7 linked regions of the Homo sapiens genome follow. The protein of the gene in region 3 interacts with the protein of the main gene of each other region in a biochemical or structural test. Each region holds a gene or a part of one and is shown on either strand. Other genes may lie near its edges.

The links.
Region 1: of the proteins of MAPK1 (region 3) and NRL, one has a biochemical effect on the other in vitro, tested with the Homo sapiens proteins (one study listed by BioGRID).
Region 2: of the proteins of MAPK1 (region 3) and UBR5, one has a biochemical effect on the other in vitro, tested with the Homo sapiens proteins (one study listed by BioGRID).
Region 4: the proteins of MAPK1 (region 3) and TOP2A form a complex in vitro, tested with the Homo sapiens proteins (one study listed by BioGRID).
Region 5: the proteins of MAPK1 (region 3) and PPM1A form a complex in vitro, tested with the Homo sapiens proteins (one study listed by IntAct).
Region 6: of the proteins of MAPK1 (region 3) and PLEKHM1, one has a biochemical effect on the other in vitro, tested with the Homo sapiens proteins (one study listed by BioGRID).
Region 7: the proteins of MAPK1 (region 3) and HSF1 form a complex in vitro, tested with the Homo sapiens proteins (one study listed by BioGRID).

What each region holds. Positions count from the first base shown.
Region 1 is NC_000014.9:24,108,450-24,111,949, forward strand, and holds part of NRL (neural retina-specific leucine zipper protein), read right to left. Parts: intron 1-3,500. UniProt on the Homo sapiens protein: Acts as a transcriptional activator which regulates the expression of several rod-specific genes, including RHO and PDE6B. Also functions as a transcriptional coactivator, stimulating transcription mediated by the transcription factor CRX and NR2E3.
Region 2 is NC_000008.11:102,283,701-102,287,200, reverse strand, and holds part of UBR5 (E3 ubiquitin-protein ligase UBR5), read left to right. Parts: intron 1-583; coding exon 584-841; intron 842-1,419; coding exon 1,420-1,688; intron 1,689-1,862; coding exon 1,863-2,074; intron 2,075-3,500. UniProt on the Homo sapiens protein: E3 ubiquitin-protein ligase involved in different protein quality control pathways in the cytoplasm and nucleus. Mainly acts as a ubiquitin chain elongator that extends pre-ubiquitinated substrates.
Region 3 is NC_000022.11:21,787,646-21,791,145, forward strand, and holds part of MAPK1 (mitogen-activated protein kinase 1), read right to left. Parts: intron 1,164-3,500; coding exon 1,049-1,163; intron 744-1,048; coding exon 612-743; intron 1-611. UniProt on the Homo sapiens protein: Serine/threonine kinase which acts as an essential component of the MAP kinase signal transduction pathway. MAPK1/ERK2 and MAPK3/ERK1 are the 2 MAPKs which play an important role in the MAPK/ERK cascade.
Region 4 is NC_000017.11:40,407,897-40,411,396, forward strand, and holds part of TOP2A (DNA topoisomerase 2-alpha), read right to left. Parts: coding exon 3,458-3,500; intron 3,351-3,457; coding exon 3,213-3,350; intron 735-3,212; coding exon 596-734; intron 229-595; coding exon 71-228; intron 1-70. UniProt on the Homo sapiens protein: Key decatenating enzyme that alters DNA topology by binding to two double-stranded DNA molecules, generating a double-stranded break in one of the strands, passing the intact strand through the broken strand, and religating the broken strand.
Region 5 is NC_000014.9:60,283,721-60,287,220, reverse strand, and holds part of PPM1A (protein phosphatase 1A), read right to left. Parts: intron 1,598-3,500; coding exon 1,480-1,597; coding exon of another isoform or gene 1,457-1,479; exon of another isoform or gene 1-1,456. UniProt on the Homo sapiens protein: Enzyme with a broad specificity. Negatively regulates TGF-beta signaling through dephosphorylating SMAD2 and SMAD3, resulting in their dissociation from SMAD4, nuclear export of the SMADs and termination of the TGF-beta-mediated signaling.
Region 6 is NC_000017.11:45,473,722-45,477,221, reverse strand, and holds part of PLEKHM1 (pleckstrin homology domain-containing family M member 1), read left to right. Parts: intron 1-1,308; exon of another isoform or gene 1,309-1,334; intron 1,335-1,495; coding exon 1,496-2,122; intron 2,123-3,500. UniProt on the Homo sapiens protein: Acts as a multivalent adapter protein that regulates Rab7-dependent and HOPS complex-dependent fusion events in the endolysosomal system and couples autophagic and the endocytic trafficking pathways.
Region 7 is NC_000008.11:144,298,104-144,301,603, reverse strand, and holds part of HSF1 (heat shock factor protein 1), read right to left. Parts: intron 1-3,500. UniProt on the Homo sapiens protein: Functions as a stress-inducible and DNA-binding transcription factor that plays a central role in the transcriptional activation of the heat shock response (HSR), leading to the expression of a large class of molecular chaperones, heat shock proteins (HSPs), that protect cells from cellular insult damage.

The sequences.
Region 1 (3,500 bases), on a different chromosome or scaffold from region 3:
GCCTCAGCCTCCCGAGTAGCTACAGGTGTAAGCCACCACACCTGGCTAATTTTTTTTTTTTTTTTAGAGATGGGGTCTCACTATGTTGCCCAGGCTGGTCTTGAACTCCTGGTTTCAAGCAATCCACCTGCCTCAGCCTCTCAAAGTGCTGGGATTACAGGTGTGAGCCACTACCCCGGGCCACTAAAGGGTATTTACTTATATTACATCTATAGCTCCTACCCTACACACAGAAAAATCTGATTCTTACAGACACAAGACATGAGAGTATTAGAACATCCCATAGTTACTTAGTGGCTTTCTAGTCAACACATTTTAAGTCCCTAGGTAAATTATTAGCACACTCTCCATTTCCATCGACACAGAGAATACTATAAGGCAATGTTCAAACACATGTATGAGCATCAGTCACTCCAAACACGGAACTGTCCCAGGAGCTCTGTGTGGTCACCAAGCTGGGAGCTGCAGTAGAGGAGAGGAGGACAGGGTTAGCTAGAGAATGAAAACACTCCTTTCCTTCTCTCCTCAGCAGCCCAGCCTGCCCTCTAGTGGAGATGCTAATGAGCAGGAAACAGGCCAAGACAGGTCAGGCAGGAAGTCAACTAGCTGACATTTACTTAGCAATTACCAGAAATTGTCCTAAAATGGGTGCTGAAGGTAGAAAAACCTCTCTGTGGCTTTAAGTGACTTTAAGTGCAACTGGAGAGAGTAGAGGTTACCCAAATGAAAAGTGCTTCACAAACTGTAACCACGCAACGTACCAAATTTCAAAATCAAGACAGCATAGGCAAAATTTAGTCTATCAAAATGACTTCACCATAATTATTTTTAAAGATATGCCATTTTATTTATTTCAATAGACACACTGTATACCCTAAGATATAAATGCTCTTACACATTTTGAAAAACATTACAGGTCATAGTGAGATAATCAAGTTCATAGGCTTAAAAATCTTTTATATGCTGCCAGGCGTGGTGGCTCACACCTGTAATCCCAGCACTTTGGGAGGCCTAGGTGGTCAGATCATGAGGTCAGGAGATCGAGACCATCCTGGCTAACATGGTGAAACCCCGTCTCTACTAAGAAAAATACAAAAAATTAGCCGGGCATGGTGGCGGGCGCCTGTAGTCCCAGGTACTCGGGAGGCTGAGGCAGGAGAATAGCATGAACCCGGGAGGCGGAGCTTGCAGTGAGCCGAGATCGGTCCACTGCACTCCAGCCTGGGTGACAGAGCAAGACTCCATCTCAAAAAAAAAAAAAAAAAATCTTTTATACGCAAAAAAATTAATCAATGAATCCAGTGATTAATCTTATATTCTTTCCCATGTGATGTGAAGGACTCAATTTTGTCATAAAACCTCAGTTATTTTAACATTTACCATGACTTTTAAATGTTTTACTCAATAATGTACAAGTTCCATATTACAAAAGCTTGAATTAAAAGATTTTATTCAGGTTTAAACTAATTTGTAAGAAGAAGAGAAAAGAGAATCAAAAAATGAATTGTTAAGGAGATAAGTTTAACAGAAGTTTTTTGTTCGTTTTTCTGGACCTCAGGTGCTATAGCTGTATTCATCATAATCCTTTGTAGAAGCTACACCTTTGTCACCAGTTCATGCAAGCCCTCCCCACTTTGTTTAATGATGTAATGAGCTGGGTATTATTATACTTTTTTTTTTTTTCTTTGAGACGGGGTCTCATTCTCGCCCAGGCTGGATGAAGTGCAGTGGCGCAATCATGGCTCACTGCAGCCTTGACCAGACTCAGGTGATCCTTCCACCTCAGCATCCTGGGTAGCCAAGACTACAGGCCCAGCTCAATTTTGTTTTTGTATTTTTCGTAGAGATGGGGTTTCGTCACATTGCCCAGGCTGATCTCAAATTCCTGTGGTCAAGCGAGCTGCCCGCCTCAGCCTCTCAAAGTACTGGGATTACAGGTGTGAGCTACCACGCCTATTATACTTTCTAATGAAAAAATGAAACCACATCGTTTTTGCATCTATTACATGTCACCAGAAGAAATGATTATCTTTATTTTTTTAACTTGACAATGTAGTTTGCACAATTTCCTATGGTATAAAAATAGAAGGCTACAACAAACCTATACCAGGAATAGGTACCTTAAAAAAAAATTGAAGACTACAACACCATTTTAATAGCTACCTGGTATTTCTGTGTCTATACTACATGGACCATAATTTATTTAACAATCCCATATTGCAAGATATTTAGATCTTTGTTTCCAGTGTTCCACTTTTATCAATAATTGCTATGTAGAACATAAATTTTTATGCATGTCCGGCCTAGATTTCTGGAAGCAGTATTACTGGGTCAAAGTGCAAGGCTGTGAGGAAGGGAGTTTTGTAGACAGCTTCCCTCTAATAAGAAATTCTCCTGGGAAGGTGCAGAGGTAAAAATAAACAAGCTATTTATTGGCATATTTGCTTAGCAGAAATATCAAAAAATGAGGTTACTAAAAATAGACATCCAGGTTTGGAAGTTTGTATTTGAAACAATGAACAATAGTGAGCCATTTGTTGATTTTCTTTTAGAGACAGTCTTTAGCTCTATCCCCAGGCTGGAGTACAGTGGAGCAATCATGGCTCACTGCAGCCTCCACCTCATAGGCTCAAGATTCCCTCCTTCATCCTTCCCAAGTAAGTTGGGACCATAGGCACGCGCCACGATGGCCGGCTATTTTTTTTTTCTTTTTGTAGACTGGGTCTCACTATGTTGCCCAGGCTGGCCTTGAACTCCTGGCCACAAATGATCCTCCTCCTCGGCCTCCCACAGTGCTGGAATTACAGTCGTAAGCCACCGTGCCCAGCTCACTTGTGCGTTAAGCACTAAATGCTGTTAGAGGAGGATTCTTCAGCAGATCAACTACCGGAAGAGGCATAGGTGTTTTTTGTTTGGTTGGTTGATTGTTTTTTGTGTGTGTGTGACGGAGTTTCGCTTTTGTAGCCCAGGCTGGAGTGCAGTGGCGTGATCTCGGCTCAATGCAACCTCCACCTCCCGGGTTCAAGCGATTCTCTTGCCTCAGCCTCTCGAGTGGCTGGGATTACAAGCGCATGCCACCACACTCGGCTTTTTTTTTTTTAGTGACGGGGTTTCACCATGTTGGCCAGGCTGGTCTCGAACTCCTGACCTCAGGTGATCCACCCGCCTTGGCCTCCCAAAGTGCTGGGATTACAGGCGTGAGCCACCGCGCCCGGCCAATTTTTTTAAAAAATGATTCCGTCCTGAGACTTTGCTGAAGTTGCTTATCAGCTTAAGGAGATTTTGGGCTGAGACGATGGGGTTTTCTAGATAAACAATCATGTCGTCTGCAAACAGGGACAATTTGACTTCCTCTTTTCCTAATTGAATACCCTTTATTTCCTTCTCCTGCCTGATTGCCCTGGCCAGAACTTCCAACACTATGTTGAATAGGAGCGGTGAGAGAGGGCATCCCTGTCTTGTGCCAGTTTTCAAAGGGAATGCTTCCAGTTTTTGCCCAT
Region 2 (3,500 bases), on a different chromosome or scaffold from region 3:
ATTTTCTTGCCTTTTTTTTTTTTTTTTTTTTTTTTAAATTGGGTCTCATTCTGTCACCAGGCTGGATATTCCAGTGGTGCAGTCAGAGCTCTTTGCAGCCTTGACCTCCTGAGCTCCTACCTCAGCCCCCTGAGTAGCTGGGTCTACTAGGTGCAAGCCACCACATCGGGCTAATTTTTTTTTTTAAAGAGTTGGGATCTTACTGTGTTGCCCAGGCTGGTCTTGAGCTCCTGAGCTCAAGCAGTCCTCCCACCTCAGCCTCCTCAGTTGTTGGGATTATAGGCATGTGCCACCACACCCAGCTAAAAGTTACTTATTCAGGAGGCTGAGGCATACAAATAGCTTGAACCCAGGAGGCAGAGGCTGCAGTGAGCCGACATGGTGCCACTGCAGTCCTGCCTGAGCCACAGAGCTGGGCTTGAAAGTTATTTTCTAATAAAAACTATTTTATGGTAGGTTTTGTGGATTATTGAATACAATCTGGCATTCTGTTTAATATGTATGTTTTCCTGAATGAGGGGGTACATTGTAATTTTAATTATTAAACTCACAATGTTTTTGGTTTTAAAAATAAAAATTTTAGGAGCAAGCAGTGTTCCTGCCTTCTTTTCTGAAGATGATTCTCAATCGAATGACTCAAGTGATTCTGATAGCAGTAGTAGTCAGAGTGACGACATAGAACAGGAGACCTTTATGCTTGATGAGCCATTAGAAAGAACCACAAATAGCTCCCATGCCAATGGTGCTGCCCAAGCTCCCCGTTCAATGCAGTGGGCTGTCCGCAACACCCAGCATCAGCGAGCAGCCAGTACAGCCCCTTCCAGTACATCTACACCAGCAGGCAAGTCTGAAAACTTAGTATTGCTAAGAATACTTAGATAGATTTTTTAAATTATGCATGTTCATCTGGGGATAAAATTAGTTTTATGATAGTTCCTCATTGTTTTGTTGAGTTTCAAATATAAAAAATATGTACATATGATTATAGCAGGGTTTCCCAGTCTTTGCATTATTGCATCTTTGGACTGGGTAATTGTGGGAGGCTGTCTTGTGCATTGTGGGATGTTAGGCAGCATCCCTAGCCTACACCCACTAGATGCCAGTGAAACCCCTCTCACCCTTCTTCCCCTCCCCTTGGCTCCCACAGTTGTGATAACCAAGAATGTCTGTAGATACTGCCAAATGTGTAGCCCCTTTGGCGGGGGGAGGTGGCGTGGGGGTCAGATTTCCCCTGGTTGAGAACTTTATATTAATTCTTGTCCCCTCCATACTCCTCTCCCCAAAATAGTGTGGTTTAGGCAAAGTTTTTTGCTTGGGTACCACAATTGACCATTTAGATTTACGTAAGTATATATAATCCCAGAGAAACACAATTAGCAACTGACATTAGCTCATTGTGGTTGTCCTTTTTCCTTATAGCAAGTTCAGCGGGTTTGATTTATATTGATCCTTCAAACTTACGCCGGAGTGGTACCATCAGTACAAGTGCTGCAGCTGCAGCAGCTGCTTTGGAAGCTAGCAACGCCAGCAGTTACCTAACATCTGCAAGCAGTTTAGCCAGGGCTTACAGCATTGTCATTAGACAAATCTCGGACTTGATGGGCCTTATTCCTAAGTATAATCACCTAGTATACTCTCAGATTCCAGCAGCTGTGAAATTGACTTACCAAGATGCAGTAAACTTACAGGTATGAAACCACTGAAAAGTTTCCCATTCCACTATTTTTTTTTGGCTGTCAATTATGAGAATTCCAGTATTAGGGGAATTAAATGTTAGAAACGTTTACATATTGACATACTGCTGCTGTATCGAATTTAGCTCTATTTGGATAGTTTTAACTATTTTAGTTTGGTCTTCATAGAACTATGTAGAAGAAAAGCTTATTCCCACTTGGAACTGGATGGTCAGTATTATGGATTCTACTGAAGCTCAATTACGTTATGGTTCTGCATTAGCATCTGCTGGTGATCCTGGACATCCAAATCATCCTCTTCACGCTTCTCAGAATTCAGCGAGAAGAGAGAGGATGACTGCGCGAGAAGAAGCTAGCTTACGAACACTTGAAGGCAGACGGTATGAAATTCTTCATATATACAGAACGTCCCCAACTTAAAATGGATCCTCAACTTACAATTTTTTGTTTGTTTGTTTGTTTGTTTTTTTGAGACGGAGTCTCACACTCTTACCCAGGCTGGAGTGCAGTGGTGCCGTCTCGGCTCACTGCAAGCTCCGCCTCCTGGGTTCATGCCATTCTCCTGCCCCAGCCTCCCGAGTAGCTGGGACTACAGGCACTTGCCACCCACGCCCGGCTAATTTTTTGTTTTCTTAGTAGAGACGGGGTTTCACTGTGTTAGCCATGGTGGTCTTGATCTCCTGACCTTGTGATCTGCCCACCCTGGCCTCCCAAAGTGCTGGGATTACAGGCGTGAGCCACAGCGCCCGACCCCCAACTTACATTTTTTTTTTGACTTTGTGATGGGTTTATTGGGGGTATTAAATGCGTTTAGACTTTATGCGTTTATGATGAGTTTATCAGGACATAACCACATCTTCAGTCAAGGAGTATCTATACTTGCATGTTTAGATAGAATCTTTGTATCCTAGAAGGTTAAAGCTTTTTAGTTGCTATTATGTAAGACCTCATCTTACTGTGAAGGGAGAAAGAAATGACTTGCTTGCATTACTTAAATTGTTGAGGCAGAATAGGCTAGTTATCATCCAAGCTGTTTTTAAAAATCCATTCATATCGTAGGAATCTGATACTAAAGCCTTTTTATTTTTGAAGTTATTGGTCTATATCTTTGTCTCATTATCCCCAAGACCTCCCCCTCTCCTCTTAGGAAGTTATTTTGACTATAATTGGTTATGAATGTACTTTGTACTCAGGAGGGGGAAAGTATGTGTGATTACCAGTGCTGCTCTTTTTTTCTCAAATCACATTTCTTTTTTTCTGCCTCCCCTAGTCTGTTGAATTAAAATAAAATATATATCTATGTATTTGTTATGTTCTTTCTATTCAGTTATAAAGTGACCTTTTTCAGGAGTAGGTATCAGCTCAAATATTGAACATCAGAGCAATAGCAGTAATATAGTAAAAGTGCCTCATACCTGAAGTCAAAATCCAAGGATTTGGTTCTGTCTCTACCTCAGGATAAACAACTTTGTTACTCTGGGCAGATCATAAAGTGAGGAAAGACAAAGGTCTAAGAGATTACTTAGAAAGACAGTGATAGGCATCTACAGTAGAGGTAATAGTTACTAAAGTAGGGCAGTGAAGACCAAAAGGAGGGGAGAGAAGCATTGAAATAAAAAACAGAATTTAGGGCCTTGTTGAGGGATTAAGTAGCAGGGGCATCATTTATATTTAAACCTTGATCCTGAGTAACTAATAGGAAAATTAAAGAGAAAAACCTAAGAGTAGTATAATGGACAAACTTGCTTTTGAACATGTGAGAACTGGGGGAAAAAAAATGGTAGAAATGTCAAATGTGCAGAATTG
Region 3 (3,500 bases):
ATGAAAAGGTGTAATTTGTTTGCAGGGTCCTAGACTTCCTGAGACCTAAAAATGTGACCTTAGGCTGAACGCTGTGGCTCACGCCTGTAATCCCAGTTTTGGGAGGCCAAGGTGGGCAGATCAAAAGGTCAGGAGTTCGAGACCAGCCTGGCCAGCATGGTGAAACCCTGTCTCTACTAAAAATACAAAAATGAGCCAGGCGTGGTGGTACGCGTCTGTAGTCCCAGTTACTTGGGAGGCTGAGGCAGAAGAATCGCTTGAACCCGGGAGGAGGAGGTTGCAGTGAGCCGAGATCGGGCCACTACACTCCAGCCTGGGCGACAGAGTGAGACACTGTCTCAAACAAAAACAAAAAAAAAGTGACCTTAATGCAAATTAAAATTAGCAAAGAAACCAAAAGGTGGAGAACTAGACCGTCATTACCAGGTTCCCTTACTGCACTGCCACTGTTTCCAAAAAAAAAAAGGGGGAAGACAACAATTCAGAGTGAGCACTAAAGAAAGCATTATCCAATAGCCATAGGCTCATTTTTCAGGCTAGTGACCTAACAATTTAACAAATAAACGCGAAGCTAAGCCTAAGAAAAAACTAATCAACGAAATAACATTTACCTTTGGAGTCAGCATTTGGGAACAGCCTGTTCCATGGCACCTTATTTTTGTGTGGAAGAGAAAGCAAATAGTTCCTAGCTTTTAAATTTATTATACAATTCAGGTCTTCTTGTGATGGGGATCCAAGAATACCTATCAGATAAAAAAATTAGCTATTAGTTATCAGGACCAAGGTAAATGACTACACACCATCAACTCTGAGTCGGAATGAACCCTGATAATTGATATGAGCCGTTGCTTATCACCACTCCTGATGTTTACCTTTCTTATGTTTTTACACAAAAGTCCTTAACATTTTAAATCAGAGAAGGTTAAAAATTCACACCTACCACAGGTTAAAGAGTATATTAGAACTCTTCTTAATTTAATGAAGTGACTTTGATGTAAGCTGTACAAACTTGAGTAAATCTAGCTCCTGAAGGGCTCGGGAACCTTACCCAAAATGTGGTTCAGCTGGTCAAGATAATGCTTCCCTGGAAAGATGGGCCTGTTAGAAAGCATTTCTGCCAGAATGCAGCCTACAGACCAAATATCAATGGACTTGGTGTAGCCCTGCAGGAGAAAGAGAGAAAAGACTGAAAATGGTATCTGGTGTTACAGGACATGATGAGATCTTCCTGTATGACAGGTGCATTGCTGATGGGACTCTGAACTTCTCCTTTGACTCTACAATTCAGAAATACAAGTAAACAACATGGAAAAGCAAAAAACAATTTGGCTTTCTTATGAGAGGCTGAACAACCAAGATTATGTGATTTTATTTTTCTCTTCATAGTTGATTAACTTGGGCTGGGCACAGTGGCTAATGCCTGTAATCCCAGCACTTTGGGAGGCCGAGGCGGGCGGATCACTTGAGGCCAGGAGTTTGAGACTAGCCTGGCCAACATGGTGAAACCCCATCTCTACTAAAAATACAAAAAAATTAGCCGGGCATGGTAGTGGGTGCCCGTAATCCCAGCTACGTGGGAGGCTGAGGCAGGAGAATTGCTTGAACCCAGGAGGCAGAGGTTGCAGTGAGCCAAGATCGTGCCACTGCACTCCAGCCTGGGTGACAGAGCGAGACTCTGTCTCAAAACAACAACAAACCCACAAAGTTGATTAACTTATTAAATTAGAATTTCCAAAGTATACATCCGTCCTTTTTTGAAACAATTTGAGAGACAGATTTAGAATTGTCATAAATTGGAGCTGGAAAAAGAAAAAAGGTCTAAAAACCTTTTCTGGGTTTGGGGGAGTGTGTGCTAGCTCCATCATATTTTACCAATCTCTTCTAAAATATTCTCAGCTGGGCATGGTGGCTCACGTCTGTAATCCCAGCACTTTGGGATGCCGAGACGGGCGAATCACCTGATGTCAGAAGTTCAAGATCAGCCTGGCCAACATAGTGAAACCCTGTCTCTACTAAAACTACAAAAATTAGCCGGGCGTGGTGGTGGGCACCCATAGTTCCAGCTACTTGGGAGGCAGAGGCAGGAGAATTGCTTGAACCTAGGAGGCAGAGGTTGCAGTGAGCCGAGATTGCACCACTGCACTCCAGCCTGGGCAACACAGGGAGACTCCATCTCCAAAAATAACATAACATAACATATAACATAACATAACATAACATAACATAACATAACATAACATAACATAAACATAACATAAAACATAACATAACATATAACATAACATAACAAATAAAATAAAATAAAAGAATTCTCATCTTCTTTTCCTATTCATTTTTCAGGAATATGTTTTCTTTTAAAGGAATCCTGTTAGAAGTCATGGGAGGATACTTTGGGAGGCTGAGGTGGGAGTACTGCTTGAGGCCAGGAGTTTGAGGCTGCAGTGAACTATGACTGCAGTTGCACTGTTACACTCCTAATAGCAGCATGTGAAAGAAAATGCATTTCCTCATGTCCTCAACAACACTGGGTATTAACTAATTATTATTATTATTATCATTATTATTATTATTTTGCCACACATGGTGGCTCACACCTGCAGTCCCAGCTACTCGGGAGGCTGAGGTGGGAGGATCACTTAAGCCCAGGGATTGGAGGCTGCAGTGAGCTGTGACCGAGCCAATGCATTCCAGCCTGGGTGACAGAGTGAGACCCTTTCTCTAAAAATTAAAAAAAAAAAAAAAAAATCATGGAAGGATTCTGTCTGAATCATAACAATGGTGCAAAAAAGATGTTTCTCCAAGGAATATAAGCTGACTCTTTTAAAATTAAGAGATGGTGTCATCACTCTGTCACTCAGGCTGAAGTGCAATGGTGTAATCATGCCTCACTGCAAATTCAACTTCCTTGTCTCAGGTGATCCTCTCACCTCAGCCAGGTCCTGAGTAGCTGGCACTACTGAGTAGCTGGCACACAGTAGGTGGGCCACAGGCATACACCACCACACCTGGTTGATTTTTAAATTTTTTGTAGAGAAGGGGTCCCACTATTTGCCCAGGCTGGTTTCAAACTCCTGGGCTCAAATGATCCTCCTGCCTCAGCCTCCCAAAGAGCTGGGATTACGGCATGAGGCACCATACCTGGCTCCAGAAGTGCCTTCTAATACAATGAAGTGCTTTTCTGGTATTCATGTTAAAAATGCATGACCCAAAACTGAGGGGCATTCTACAAAATAGCTCATCTGCACTCTTAAAGGAGACTAAAGAAACACAACAACCTGTCTCTATGAAAAGCACAAAAATAAATAAGTAAATCAGCCATGAGCAGTAGCACGTGCCTGTAGTCTCAGATACTTGGGAGGCTAAGGTGGGAGGATGGCCTTGAGCCCAGGAGGCGGAGGTTGCAGTGAGCCGAGATGGTGCCACGGTACCCCAGCCTGGGTGACAGAATGAGAACCCGTCCTTTTTTTTTGAGACGGAGTCTTGCTTTGTCACCCAGGCTG
Region 4 (3,500 bases), on a different chromosome or scaffold from region 3:
AATTAAATATAAGCATAAAGTCTTGTATTATAAATTAGATTTAGATTCTGAAGATCGTCTTATATTCTACCTGCTTATGAGAAGCTTCTCGAACATTGAGTATTTTTCCTCTAAGAGGGAAAACCCCATATTTGTCTCTCCCAACCACACCAAGGCCTGAAACAGCCAAAGTTTTGGCTGAATCTCCCTCAGTCAGGATAAGCGTACACTCAGTGGAGTTTCGGCCCCCTAAAATAAAAATATACATATTAATATTAGCACATTTAGTTCAACCTCAAATATACTAACTTGAACATGCTGTTTATAGCCTTGTGATAAAACACAATTTACTATATAATGAGCAAAATTATTTGTTAGGTAATAGATCATAATATAAACATTCTTGTTTTATACTCCAAAATAATCACCTCAATATTATTTATAACATGGAAATGACCTAAATCTTCCATAATAGGAAACGGGCCGATTTTTAACAAGTTATTCTGTTGAATATAGTTATTCTGTCAAGGGAAAAATAAATATCCGTGGTATGCCATTAATGAATAAAATAACAACTATAAGACTTAAAAGTTTGGAAACATTATTAAATATATACCTGCATCATTGGCATCATCGAGTTTGGGAATTCCCTTGATTCTATTATGTTTTACAGCTGAACACTTCTTGTTTAACTGGACTTGGGCCTTAAACTTCACCCAGTTTAGTATGCTTTCTACAATACCACAGCCAATGGCCTGAAAACGAGAAGATTCATATTAGGGATCATATTAGGGAAGAAGGGATCTATCAGAAATCTAGAATACAAATGAGCCTTAATACAAATAAAAATGATTCAAAAATTAAAAAGATGTAGAACAATAATTTCTGGATAGAGGGTGGCACATCTTCCCATGTCAGGTTATCACCACTGAGGGAGCTGCTCCTTTTGGTTCATTCGTTCAATAAATATTTACTATATAATTATATTGTGCTAGCACTGAGCTACTTGTTGGAGATATAGTGGTTAAAACAAATTAGACCAGGCACGGTGGCTCACGCCTATAATCCCAGCACTTTAGGAGGCCAAGGTGGGCAGAACACCTGAGGTCAGGAGTTTGAGACCGGCCTGGCCAACATGGCGAAACCCCGGCTCTACTAAAAATACAAAAATTAGCTGGCGTGGTGGTGGGCACCTGTAATTCCAGCTACTCGGGAGGCTGAGGCAGGAGAATCGCTTGAACCCAGGAGGTAGAGGTTGCAGCGAGCCAAGATCGCACCATTGCACTCCAGCCTGGGTGACAAAAGTGAAACTCCGTCTCAAAAAAAAAAAAAAAAAAAAAAAAAAGGGTAGCCAGGCATGGTGGTGGTGAAATGGCTGTAATCCTAGCTGCTTGGGAGGCTGAGGCAGGAGAATTGCTTTAACCTGGGAGGCGCGGGTTGCAGTGAACTGAGATCAAGCCACGGCACTCCAGCCTGGGAAACAGTGAGAAGCTGTCTCCAAAAAAAAAAATTAAAAATAAATAAATAAAATTAGACACAAATAAAACAAATTGAGACACTTGTCCTCATCAAGTTTAAGACACAACATAGAAGACAGACATAGCTGGGTGCAGTGGCTTACGCCTGTAATCACAGCACTTTAGGAGGCCGAGGATGGTGGATCAAGTGAGGCCAGGAGTTCAAGACCAGCCTGGCCAACATGGTAAAACCCCATCTCTATTAAAAATACAAAAATTAGCTGGATGTGATGGTGCATGTCTGTAATCCCCGCTACTCAGGAGGCTGGAGAATCCCAGCTACTCAGGAGGCAAGGAGAATCGCTTGAACCTGGGAGGCAGAGATTGCAATGAGCCAGGATTACGTCACTGCACTGTAGCCTGGGCAACACAGCAAGACTCTGTCTCAAAAAAAAAAAAAAAAAAGACTGGGCACAGTGGCTCATGGCTGTAATCCCAACACTTTGGAAGGCCGAGATGGGTGGATCATTTGAGGTCAGGAGTTTGAGACCAGCCTGACCAACATGGTGAAACCCTGTCTCTACTGAAAATACAACAACAAAAAAATTAGCCAGGCATGGTGATGCATGCCTGTAATCTCAGCTACTCGGGAGGCTGAGGCAAGAGAATCACTGAAACCTAGGAGGCGGAGGTTGCAGTGAGCCGAGATCGTGCCACTGCATTCCAGCCTGGGCGACAGAGCGAGACTCTGCCTAAAAAAAAAGACAGAAATAAAATAAGTTACAGTGTTATAAGTGTTATGGATAAGCAAAAAGTTTGCTAATAAGGTATGTTCAATATTATATTGGAACCAACTTAGGTGGGGGGAAGGGTAGAAAGTAAAGGCTTTCCTGAGGAAAGGACAAGACCTAAAGTAGCCAGGTGAAAAGGATGTATTTCATGCAGAGGGATTAGCATGTGAATAAACTCTGAGGAGGGGAAGAGCACTGTGCTTTTCAGTAATTTAAAAGCAACAGGACAATATACGAAAAACTGGCACTGAGATGAGTTGGAGAAGTAGGTGTAATTAGATTACAGCAGATCTTTCTTGTTGGCCAAATTATGGAATTTGGACTTTCCCTGAGTGGAAGTCATTGAAAGATTTCAAATGAGAGTGAAGATAAAAATGGGTGTTTTAACACAAAAGTCACTCAAAAGCATTCCAAGGAAAGGACTTAACCAGTATGAAGGTTAAGAACCTATTGTAGTAAACCAAAAAAGAGATAATGGTGAGAAGCTACTGCAGCATCCAAGAGATGATTCTTATTGACCGGATTAGAGAGGAGGGGAAATAAAGGAAGGCTCCCAGCTTTCTTGTTTATACAACCTAGAGGTTGGTTGGGGCTTTTTACTAAGATAGGAAGTTGTTTTTTTGTTGGAGAGTGGGGGGCTGCTTGTATGGGCAAATCAGTGAGTATGGAGGTAACAAATTCAATTTTGGATGTGTTGACTGAAAGCAAGTCTTAGGCATTTAAGTGAGGGTGTTTGTTAAACAGCTAGATTAATTCAAAAGTGATCTAAGCTTAATGGTAAAATGTAATTGGGAAATACTGAAATATAGACGGTCATTAAGTCTTTGGTAAATCAGTTAAAGTAAAGCCCTTTTTTACTTCCTTTTCAGATTGGGAAGACTTGGAGAAGCTCACTATGAGAAGAATCATTGTTTCTGCAGAGCTAAGAAGTGCAATGGAAAATAAAGTCAGGTGTTTCTATTTTTATTTTCCTCTAAGTACTCACAGCTTTGATAAATTTTTCACTCAATTGGCATGTTGATCCAAAGCTCTTGGGTTGTAAAGTCATGTTTTCTTTTGTCTGAGAGTCAAAGGTTGGGTTTTCAATTAAGGCATTTACAAAAATCCACATGTGATTTTTCACCTGCAATAGAAGTTGATATTAAGCCACTAAAAATGTACTCATGCTTTATTTATAGCCTTTCTCTTCTTCCTTGACTTTAGAAAAAGAAAACTGCCAAAAGCACATACCTGATGTGCTTTTACTGCAACACCACCCTTGTTCTTCTTCTTC
Region 5 (3,500 bases), on a different chromosome or scaffold from region 3:
TCATAATTCCATCTAAAACTTAAAGTGTACACACTAAAGAGAAAAGTAGCAATTCATTTCTAAAATTGGATCCCATTTCATAGTAAAAATATTAAAATACTTATTACTTCTTTAAACCAATAAGAAAACATGTCTGCCCAAGTTAAAGTGCCAATACATTAAATATCAACTTATCCCTATACATATTATTCTTATGAATTTAAATTTTCCCATGAATCAATAGTTTGAACCAATGATTGTAGCATTCTAAATATTTTAAAATTGTACTATACCTATAAATAACTTATATTGAATGATTAATTTAAAATATAAAAATTCCAAGACCCTTGGTAACAGTAAGGAGACAAATTCGTTGAATAGTACGTCCAATGAATGCAATACTAAATAGTACAAACACATACTAGATGTATGACTATCAAGTGGCGGACAGCAATAAAAACAAAATAGTAGCTCTAGACAGTACTAAAGAACAAAACCAATCATGATTCTAGTATCAGACTGATTATGATTGGTATCAAACAGTAAAAAGGGGAAAAAAAATTAAAGTGAGTAGTAATTTCAATAATGCAGGCACAGTGGGATGTAGGTGTGGTAGGTCAATGCTTGCATGCGATTAGAGGTCTTTAACGTGCAAATTAACGACATTAGGAGCCTAAAATGCATTTTAACGCTATTTTTAAAATTTTTTTCTTGTTTTTTTTCTACCTCAGCTCACCAGCATTTTCATGTTTTAACACTATTAAAGTCATGTCAAGTTTTTCCACTTAGAGAAACTGCATAATATATACACTTTACTGCATATATGCAATAAACTGGAAGTCTCTGCAGAATTATGAGAAATATACTCCAGAAATGCTCAACTTATTTCTTAATCTTACTTGGCAGTTACTTTTCTGCCAGGTGGAGAAATATTATGTCTTTTATTGAGGTCTATCTTGTTTAGGTGAGACAGTTTATGGCTTAGGGAAGAAGCTCTGAAACAGTTTAAAGCAAATTTTTTAAAGCTGTGTATATAAAGTTGCTAATGATGAGGCTGTGATTTTCAAGTTATTGAAAAAAGGCCCTAGAGATTAAAATTAATATACACAGCTTTTCATAGAAAGATGGTATTCAAATTATCACCATCACAATCTCTTTGTAATTAAATAGACCACAAATCAGATTTTCCCGGCATAAAATTACTCATGCCAGTGAATTCATTAAGAATTTTAAAGCACACAAACATTTTAGCCTTTTAAAACAAAAGTATCCTGAACAGAATGTGGGTTACTTTCCACACTAGTTGTTATTTCTAATATAACTGTGATAGGACAACTGCATACATCTTAACAGCTACTACAGAAATGTCCTTTTCCACTTTCATACACTAGACACTAGCTGTCAAAGACACATAAAAATCTAAAAGCTAAAATGTTAAAGTTTGATTGTGTTGAAGATTTTTCTTTAATAAAGCTACTTATTTTTTGTTAAATGATCCACCTTCTACTCTGCATTCCAGGTACTTGTCCAACTCTGCCTCCTTCTTCACTGCTTCTGGCGATACTTTGGGTGCATTTGGAAAACAGATCAAAATCACACTCATGTTGTCTCGACTTCCCTGGGAAGAAAAAAATTTGAGAATATTTTAGTTTTCTTTTTGCTCTTCAAAGCCTTGAGAACCTTTACAGCTGTGCCAATTACAGTTATACTTGTTCTAGTGAAAATGTTACTTTCAGGGAGAAAAAAATACATATGTGCACGCATGCGTGCGTGTGTGTGTGCAATGACTCCCCCTCCCCCGAACAGTATAGAGAGAATACAGTATAACCAATACTCCAAAAGACAGGAGAGAAACATTACAGGTTAATCTCACTGTAATAATAATTTTTTATAATTCTATAAAACAATACTATTTCTAAACATTTACTGGTGACTTAATTTGAAGTGATACCTAATACAAATATACATGTGTACACACACTCCTTCCATACAACATGACAGAAAATTTTAGTGGCATTGTTTACAATAGGATTTGACCTGTAGTTATATGTACCTGATAAAATTACCTTTAAAATAAATTATAAATTGTGGGGCTAATACATTCGCTTCATAAGTAGAAATATGAAATAAGAGGTAAAACTACCTAAGGTTTATAAACCAGCTTTTAACTTGTATTAATTTTAAAAACTGACAACTTTTAGGAACTACATTCATTTTTAAAGACATCTAAGTATTCAAATGCTATAATTAAATATTTGAGTATCAAATATATACCCTCAGAAGAATTTTAAAAAGTCAACATTTGTTTAAAAAAACATCAAAGAATAAGTTAATAAGCATTATTGACAAAACAGAACAGAGTGTGGCAGAAAGAACACTGAACCCAAGTCAAGGGCCTTGATTTTCTAGTCTTAATGCTGTTAGCAATGTATAAAACCCTGTACACGTCATTTATAATATCTGTAGGAAAGGGTGTAGCATGTATTATATGCTAAACTAGGCATTATATATATATATATGTATATATATATATACACACACACATATATATATATATACATACGCTCATTAATTCCTCAACAGTCTTTTTTTTTTTTTTTGAGACGGAGTCTCGCTCTGTCGCCCAGGCTGGAGTGCAGTGGCGCGATCTCGGCTCACTGCAAGCTCCGCCTCCCGGGTTCACGCCATTCTCCTGCCTCAGCCTCCCGCGTAGCTGGGACTACAGGCGCCCGCCACCACACCCGGCTAATTTTTTGTGTTTTTTAGTAGAGACGGGGTTTCACTGTGTTAGCCAGGATGGTCTCGATCTCCTGACCTCGTGATCCGCCCACCTCGGCCTCCCAAAGTGCTGGGATTACAGGCGTGAGCCACCGCGCCCGGCAACAGTCTTATAAGATACTATTATCTCCATTTTAAAGCTGAGAGAGGTTGAACAATTCGTTCAGGAATGTAGAGTACAAAACTAATAGAGGTAAGCCTTGGTCTCAGGTCTGTCTGACTCTTAAGTTTGTAGAACCTTCTCTGGCTTCAGCTTCCTCATCTGTAAAATAAAGGGGCTGAGCTAGCTCACCTGTGTATATTATCCCATTTGATCCTCCTGACAACGCCATGAGACAAGATAATAATGTCTTATCCTTTTTATGATGAAAAAAACTGATTAGAGTTTAAATAGCTTACCTAAAACCATACACAGTCTCAGAGCAAGTTCTTCTGACTCCATGTACAAGGCTATTTCTATTACATCACGTCTAATGATCACTACATTCCTCTTTCAAGTGCTACAGACCATTAAACCTTAGTTTCAAAGGATTAGGATATCATAAATGTACTGAGATATCACATGGTCAAATATTAAAACTCTAAAATGCTTTTCATTTATAGACACTGAGGCCTAACCCTCCCCACCCTCTTTCTTTCAAAACATGCACTCTGATAAAATCTTTTTACCTTTGATAATCTTCCACATTATTACAAAGCTCAAGTAGTAAGACTAAACATTCAGCTTATAACTCTTGCAGAGA
Region 6 (3,500 bases), on a different chromosome or scaffold from region 3:
CTTGTGATCTGCCTACCTCCGCCTCCCAAAGTGCTGGGATTATATAAAGAGTGGAATCAGGAAAAGCATATGAATATTCACCCTGAGACACTTATCTCTTTGGCCCCTAACTGTCTGGGCTTTTGAGCAAGTAGCTGGCACTGTGCCTCTGAGGACTACTAAATGCCACCTTCAGCCCAAAAGAAGCCTTGTCAGTCTCTAATCTTCCTTTCCATGCAGATTGCCACTGCCTTGTCTCACGTTCTTCTTTCCTGGGTGACACTGGCTTTCTATTTGTCCCCCTTATCTCACTCTGTCTTTCCTTGAGTCCATCATCTGGTCAACATTTACTGAGCTGAAGCTCCCTGGAGCTTACTCACTGAGCCTAGTAGAGTGCGGTCTACATTCCCATGGAGGAGATAAACCTGCGCTAGGGACTGTGGTAGCTCAGAGGGGCATGTACATCAGACGGAGGCATTCTGGGACTGAGTTTGGTACACCTGGGGTCTGATCTCCTTATGCAGAACATCTACCCTGCAGTCTGCATGACTGTGGTCAAGTCACTTTTCTAAACAAAAATCTGTAGCCTACAGGCTCCCAGATGCTAGCCTGGAGACTGATTCACTAGGTTGGGGTCCCAGAACTTGTATCCTGCTCAAGTTCCCCAGGGGGTTCTGGTGCACAGCTGGGTGTGGGGCCATTACCCCGTGTTGCCTTATTGATTTGATATTTAAGACCCTCTCTTTCCTGGCCTTGCAACCAAACCACCCACTTTTCCGCCACATGCTGTAATTGGAGCGCTCCCCAATCCTCTTACAGGGTTGTTGATTTCCTACACTTTATGCCTTTTTCCATCAGTCCCTTGTGCCTGAGGGCAGGGACCATGTCTTTACCCTGCATCTTCATTGCTCCAAGGACTTTGCACTTAAGGAGCTCTGACAGCATGCCTTAGATGAGCAGATGTGTCAGGGGCCCCGTGGTAGTTGGAATGAACATGGAAATTATCTTTCACAATTCCAATCTCAAAATATATATATATATATAATGTATAAATATATATAATTTATATTTATATATTTATTATATATAAATATAAATATATATATATATATTGCCTAGGCTGGAGTGCAGTGGTCCAATCTCCGCTCACTGTGACCTTTGCTTCCCAGGCTCAAGCTATCCTTCCACCTCAACCTCCCGAGTAGCTGGGTAGCTGGGACTACACGTGCAAGCCACCACATCTGGCTATGTTGTTGTTGTAGAGACAGAGTTTCGTCCTGTTGCCCAGGCTGGTCACGAATTCCTGAGCTCAAGTGATCCACCTGCCTTGGCCTCCCAAAGTGCTGGGATTACAGGTGTGAGCCACCACATCTGGCCTAAAACACTATTACCCAATATTTTTTCATGCCTGTATCTATTTGCAGTAGTTATTCCTGGTTCCTGCTAACCAGTGGATAAAAGCACATCTCTGTGATTTGGGGTAGTTTCTTGAAACACGTCTGTTCTCCCTTCCCAGACACATCATCTCAGAGTTGGAGCACCTGACGTTTGTCAACACGGATGTGGGCCGCTGCCGGGCATGGCTGCGGCTGGCCCTGAACGATGGCCTGATGGAGTGCTACCTGAAGCTGCTGCTGCAGGAGCAGGCCCGCTTGCATGAGTACTACCAGCCCACCGCCCTGCTCCGGGATGCTGAGGAGGGCGAGTTCCTCCTTAGCTTCCTGCAGGGCCTCACGTCCTTGTCCTTCGAACTCTCCTACAAGTCTGCCATCTTAAATGAGTGGACGCTCACCCCATTGGCCCTGTCTGGGCTTTGCCCGCTTTCTGAGCTGGACCCTCTCTCTACCTCTGGTGCAGAACTACAGCGGAAGGAATCTCTGGATTCCATTTCCCATTCTTCAGGCTCTGAAGACATCGAAGTCCATCACTCGGGCCATAAGATACGGAGGAACCAGAAGCTGACTGCCTCCTCCCTCAGCCTGGACACGGCCAGTTCATCCCAGCTGTCCTGCAGCCTAAACTCTGATAGCTGCTTACTCCAAGAGAATGGCTCCAAGAGTCCAGACCATTGCGAGGAGCCCATGTCCTGTGACTCAGACCTGGGCACAGCAAATGCTGAGGACTCAGACCGGTCTCTGCAAGAGTGAGTACGCTGCCCCCACTCCTTCCCATCTTCTCTCTTCCCTCCTTTCTTTCCTCTCCTCCTCCCTTTCTTCCCATAGCATGTGATTGTCTGTTACTGAACTCTATTAGTAATTAAAGAAAGCCAAGGGAGTCATCGACTTCTCCAGGGACTGGAGTAGCTGGGAACTGTAGCAGGCAATACAGGCATAGTGGAGAAAGTGGACTTAGAACAGCTTAGAGCTGGTTTGGGCTCCAGCTCTGCCCCGGTGACTTTTAGCAAGTTACTTGGCCGGGTGCGGTGGCTCATGCCTGAAATCCCAGCACTTGGGAGGCTGATACAGGAGGATTGCTTGAGCCCAGCAGTTCGAGGCCAGCCTGGGCAATGTAGCAAGATCCTGCCTCTAAATTAAAAATAAATAAATAAATAAAACAAAAACTGAAAACAAACAATAACAACAAAAAAACAAGATACTTAGTCTCTACAAGGCACAGTGTAAAATATTGTTGTCTTCATCTAGAAGGAAGGAAACTAATAGGTCAGAGTACATTTAAAACGTCCAACAAATAGATGAAACATAACGCATAAGAGTGTGACTTCACAGAATACCTCCTGGGGGACACAGGACCTGAGTGCTGCATGCAGGAGGTGGTGGACAGGTGGGGACAGACAGATGTGTGGAAGAGTATGTGGGGCAGATGAACTAGGCTGAAGAGAGAACTGGGCAGAGCCTTCTTCACACAGCCTTTTAAACATTTTTTTGCAGCTGGGCACGGTGGCTCACGCCTGTAATCCCAGCACCTTGGGAGGCCAAGGCAGGTGGATCACAAGGTCAGGAGATTGAGACCATCCTGACTAACATGGTGAAACCCCGTCTCTACTAAAAATACAAAAAATTAGCTGGGCATGGTGGCGGGCGCCTTGTAGTCCCAGCTACATGGGCGGCTGAGGCAGGAGAATGGCATGAACCCGGGAGGTGGAGCTTGCAGTGAGCTGAGACCGCACCACTGCACTCCAGCCTGGGTGACAGAGTAAGACTCTGTCTCAAAAAAAAAAAATAAATAAATAAATAAAATAAAAAATTTGCATAGATAATCTTTTTATGGTTAAAAAAAATCTAAAACATATACAGTGAAAGCCTTTCCCATTCCTGTTCTCCCTCTACCCTGTTCTTTCCTCCCACCCCTAAAACCATAATAATTTCCTGTATATTCTTCCAAATTTCTAAATGCATCTACAACAAATACCAGTATAAAGATTTTCAGCTGGGCGCAGTGGCTCACGCCTGTAATCCCAGCACTTTGGGAGGCCGAGGCGGGCGGATCACAAAGGCAAGAGATCGAGACCTTTCTGGCTAACACGGTGAAACCCCATCTCTACTAAAAATACAAAAAATTAG
Region 7 (3,500 bases), on a different chromosome or scaffold from region 3:
TGAGCCACCGCGCCCGGCCTCTTCTGGAGCTTTTAAGATTTTCTCTTCACCAGCCTGTTCCAGCACTTTGATTATATAATGTACCTTGATATGGTTTTGGTTTTATCCTGCTTAAGACTGATATTCTTGGATTTGTGAGCTTACAGCTTTTCAAAAATTTGGGAAAAATTTTGGCCATAATTTTTTTTTTGAGACAGGGCTCTGTTGCCCAGGCTGGAGTGCAGTGGTACGATCATGGCTCACTGCAGCCTCCACCTCCTGCACTCAGGTGATCCTCCCGCCTCAGCCTCCCGAGTAGTTGGGACCACAGGCAGGCACTACCACGCCCGGCTAATTTTTGTATTATTTATAGAGACAGGGTCTTGCTATGTTGCCCAGGCTGGTCTTGAACTCCTGGGCTCAAGCGATCCACCCATGTCAGCCTCCCAGAGTGCTGGGATTTCGGGCAGGAGCCACCGTGTCCAGCCTTTTGGTCATATTTCTGTATTCTCTTCCCCACTGTTTTCTGGAACCTCAAATACGTTAGACCACATGATATTATGTCCTTGAAGCTCGGCTAAGTTTTTGCAGTCCTTTTTCTCCCTGTACATCACTGTGGACAGTTTCCATTGCTTTTAGTTCAGGAATCTTTTCTTCTGAAGTTTCTAATGTTTTGTTAAACCGCTCCGGTGACTCTGAAGAACCACCTTTTTACTTTAGAATACATGCCCTACACCAGTGTCCCCCATCATTAACATCCTGCCTTTGTGTGGTACAGTTGTCTCAAGAACATTAGACACATTGTTAACTAGGACCCACATTCTAATCAGATTCCTTAGCTTTTTACCCAATCCTTCCTCTGCTCCAGGACATCATCCAAAATCCATCCAGTTGTCACATCTTCTTCAGTCCCACTGACTCTGGCACCTTTCAGACTTGCCTAGTTTTTGAGAACCTTGACAATTTTGAGGACTCGTCAAACAGTTTGTGGAATGTCTCTCAATTTGGATTTGTTTGATGTTTTTTCATCATTAGCTGGGGTTACGTATGTTTTTGGGAGGAAGATCAAAGAGGTAGAGTGCTGTTCTCATCATCCTATCAAGAGTACACAACAGGCCGGGCGCGGTGGCTGACGCGCCCAACACTTTGGGAGGCCAAGGTGGGCGGATCACGAGGTCAGGAGATTGAGACCATCCTGGCTAACACGGTGAAACCCCATCTCTACTAAAAATACAACAAAATTAGCCGGGCGAGGTGGCGGGTGCCTGTAGTCCCAGCTTCGTGGGAGGCTGAGGCAGGAGAATTGCTTGGACCTGGGAGGTGGAGGTTGCAGTGAGCCGAGATTGTGCCACTGCACTCCAGCCTGGCAACAGAGCGAGACTCCGTCTCAAAAAAAAAAAAAAAAAAAAAAAGAGTACACAACAGTGATACGCATGTCACTGCTGATGGTGAGCATGGTCCCTGGTGAGGCTGTGTTGCTGGAGGTCTCCACTGGAAAGCTGCTCCTCCTGCTTCTGTGCTCTGCTCTTTGGAAGAGGGTCACTAGGTAAAGCCCAGGCTTCTGGAGTGAGGAGTTAAGCATCACCTCCTCGAAGGGGAACTATCTCAGTAAACAATGTGGAATTCTTCTACTTGGGAGATTAGTTCCAGTGACATTTTGTCCAACTTGCTTCTTTTCTGTATCTTCCATTTCTCAGTCATGTTTTCTTATTTTTTGAGACGGGGTCTCGCTCTGTCACCCAGGCTGGAGTGCAGTGGCACGATCTTGGCTCACTGCAAGCTCCACCTCCCGGGTCCAAGCAATTCTCCTGCCTCAGCCTCTGGAGGAGCTGGGACTACAGGTGCCCGCCACCACGCCCGGCTAATTTTTTGTATTTTTAGTAGAGACGGGGTTTCACCATGTTAGCCAGGATGGTCTTGATCTCCTGACCTCGTGATCCACCCGCCTCGGCCTCCCAGAGTGCTGGGATTACAGGTGTGAGCCACCACGCCCAGCCCTCAGTCACATTTTTGTGTTATTTCTTTGAGCACAGGGAACATTTTTATAATTGTTTACTGTCTTTGTTGGCTAATCCTATCAAAACTGGGCCTGCTACTGGACCCCCTCCAGTGACAAGTCCATTTTTCTGCTTTGGCTTGTCTGCCCATGACTGATTAGATTCTGGACGTGAATTTTTTTTTTTTTTTTTAGAAGGAGTCTTGCTCTGTTGCCCAGGCTGAAGTGCAGTGATGCGATCTCGGCTCACTGCAACCTCTGCCTCCCGGGCTCATGTGGTTCTCTTGCCTCAGCCTCCCAAGTAGCTGGGACCACAGGCGCCCATCACCACACATGGCTAATTTTTTGTAGTAGAGACGGCGTTTCACCATATTGGCCAGGCTGGTCTTGAACTCCTGACCTCAGATAATCCGCCTGCTTCGGCCTCCCAAAGTGCTGGGATTACAGGTGTGAGCCACTTCGCCTGGCTTCCTTCTCTCAAGAGTGCTGTGTGTACTCCGTGCTAGCAGGCAGTGGTGTTTCCAGGGCTTGCCTTGCACTTGTTTCCACGGCATTGGAGTGGCCTTTCCTCTGCAGCTTATTCTGCGCCACTTCCAAGCTGTGTTTCCTCTAAGGTGTCATGAAAGCTCCTTGTATTTAAAGTGGCTTCTATACTCTGGCTGGTGGGAACTGAAATAACCACGGCCCTGTGTGAGTCCTGCTCATCTGTCCCCTTACACTTACTCTTCCCCTTCAAGTTGCTCTTGGTCCAGCTCCACGAGGTTTCACTGTGTGCACCAGCAAATCGGATCCAACCCAAGATGCAAGCGGGCTCACGCGCAGATTGCTGGAGCTCTTTGTTTTGGGCGTAACTCCTTCCTTTCTGGTACCACACCCCACACATTCTAGCTGCCTCAGCTGCCCCAAAGTCTGGGTTTGTTGGGTTCTCTGCACGTGAGTCTGCAAATTCCCTCCACATAAAAAGCCTGGACAATTTTGTGGTTTACCTCAGTCCTCGCCGGTTTTTTCTTTTCTTTCTTTTTTTTTTTTTGAGACAGTTTCTCGCTCTGTGGCTGGAGCGCAGCGGCGCAATCTCGGCTCACTGCAACCTCTGTATCCCAGGTTCAAGTGATTCTCCTGCCTCAGCCTCCCGAGTAGCTGGGATTACAGGCACGCACCACCACGCCTGGCTATTTTTTTTTTTTTTGTATTTTTAGTAGAGACGGGGTTTCACCATGTTGGTCAGGCTGGTCTTGAACTGCTGACCTCAGGTGATCCAACCGCCTCAGCCTCCCGAAGTGCTGGGATTACAGCCGTGAGCCACCGTGCCCGGCCCTAGTTTTGTAACGTCTGAACATTTTCAGCGGCTTCTTATGCCTTAAGGGTTAAATCCAAGTTGAACATGTCAGGCAACCCCTACCTTAGGGGCCATTATGAATTTCACAGGGTCTGCTGGTGAACCCATCAGAGAACCCAGTGTCTCTCTCATCTTCCTGCCTCAGTGGAACAAGGTCCCTCCTCTGCTGACCACAGGCACCTCTTGGAG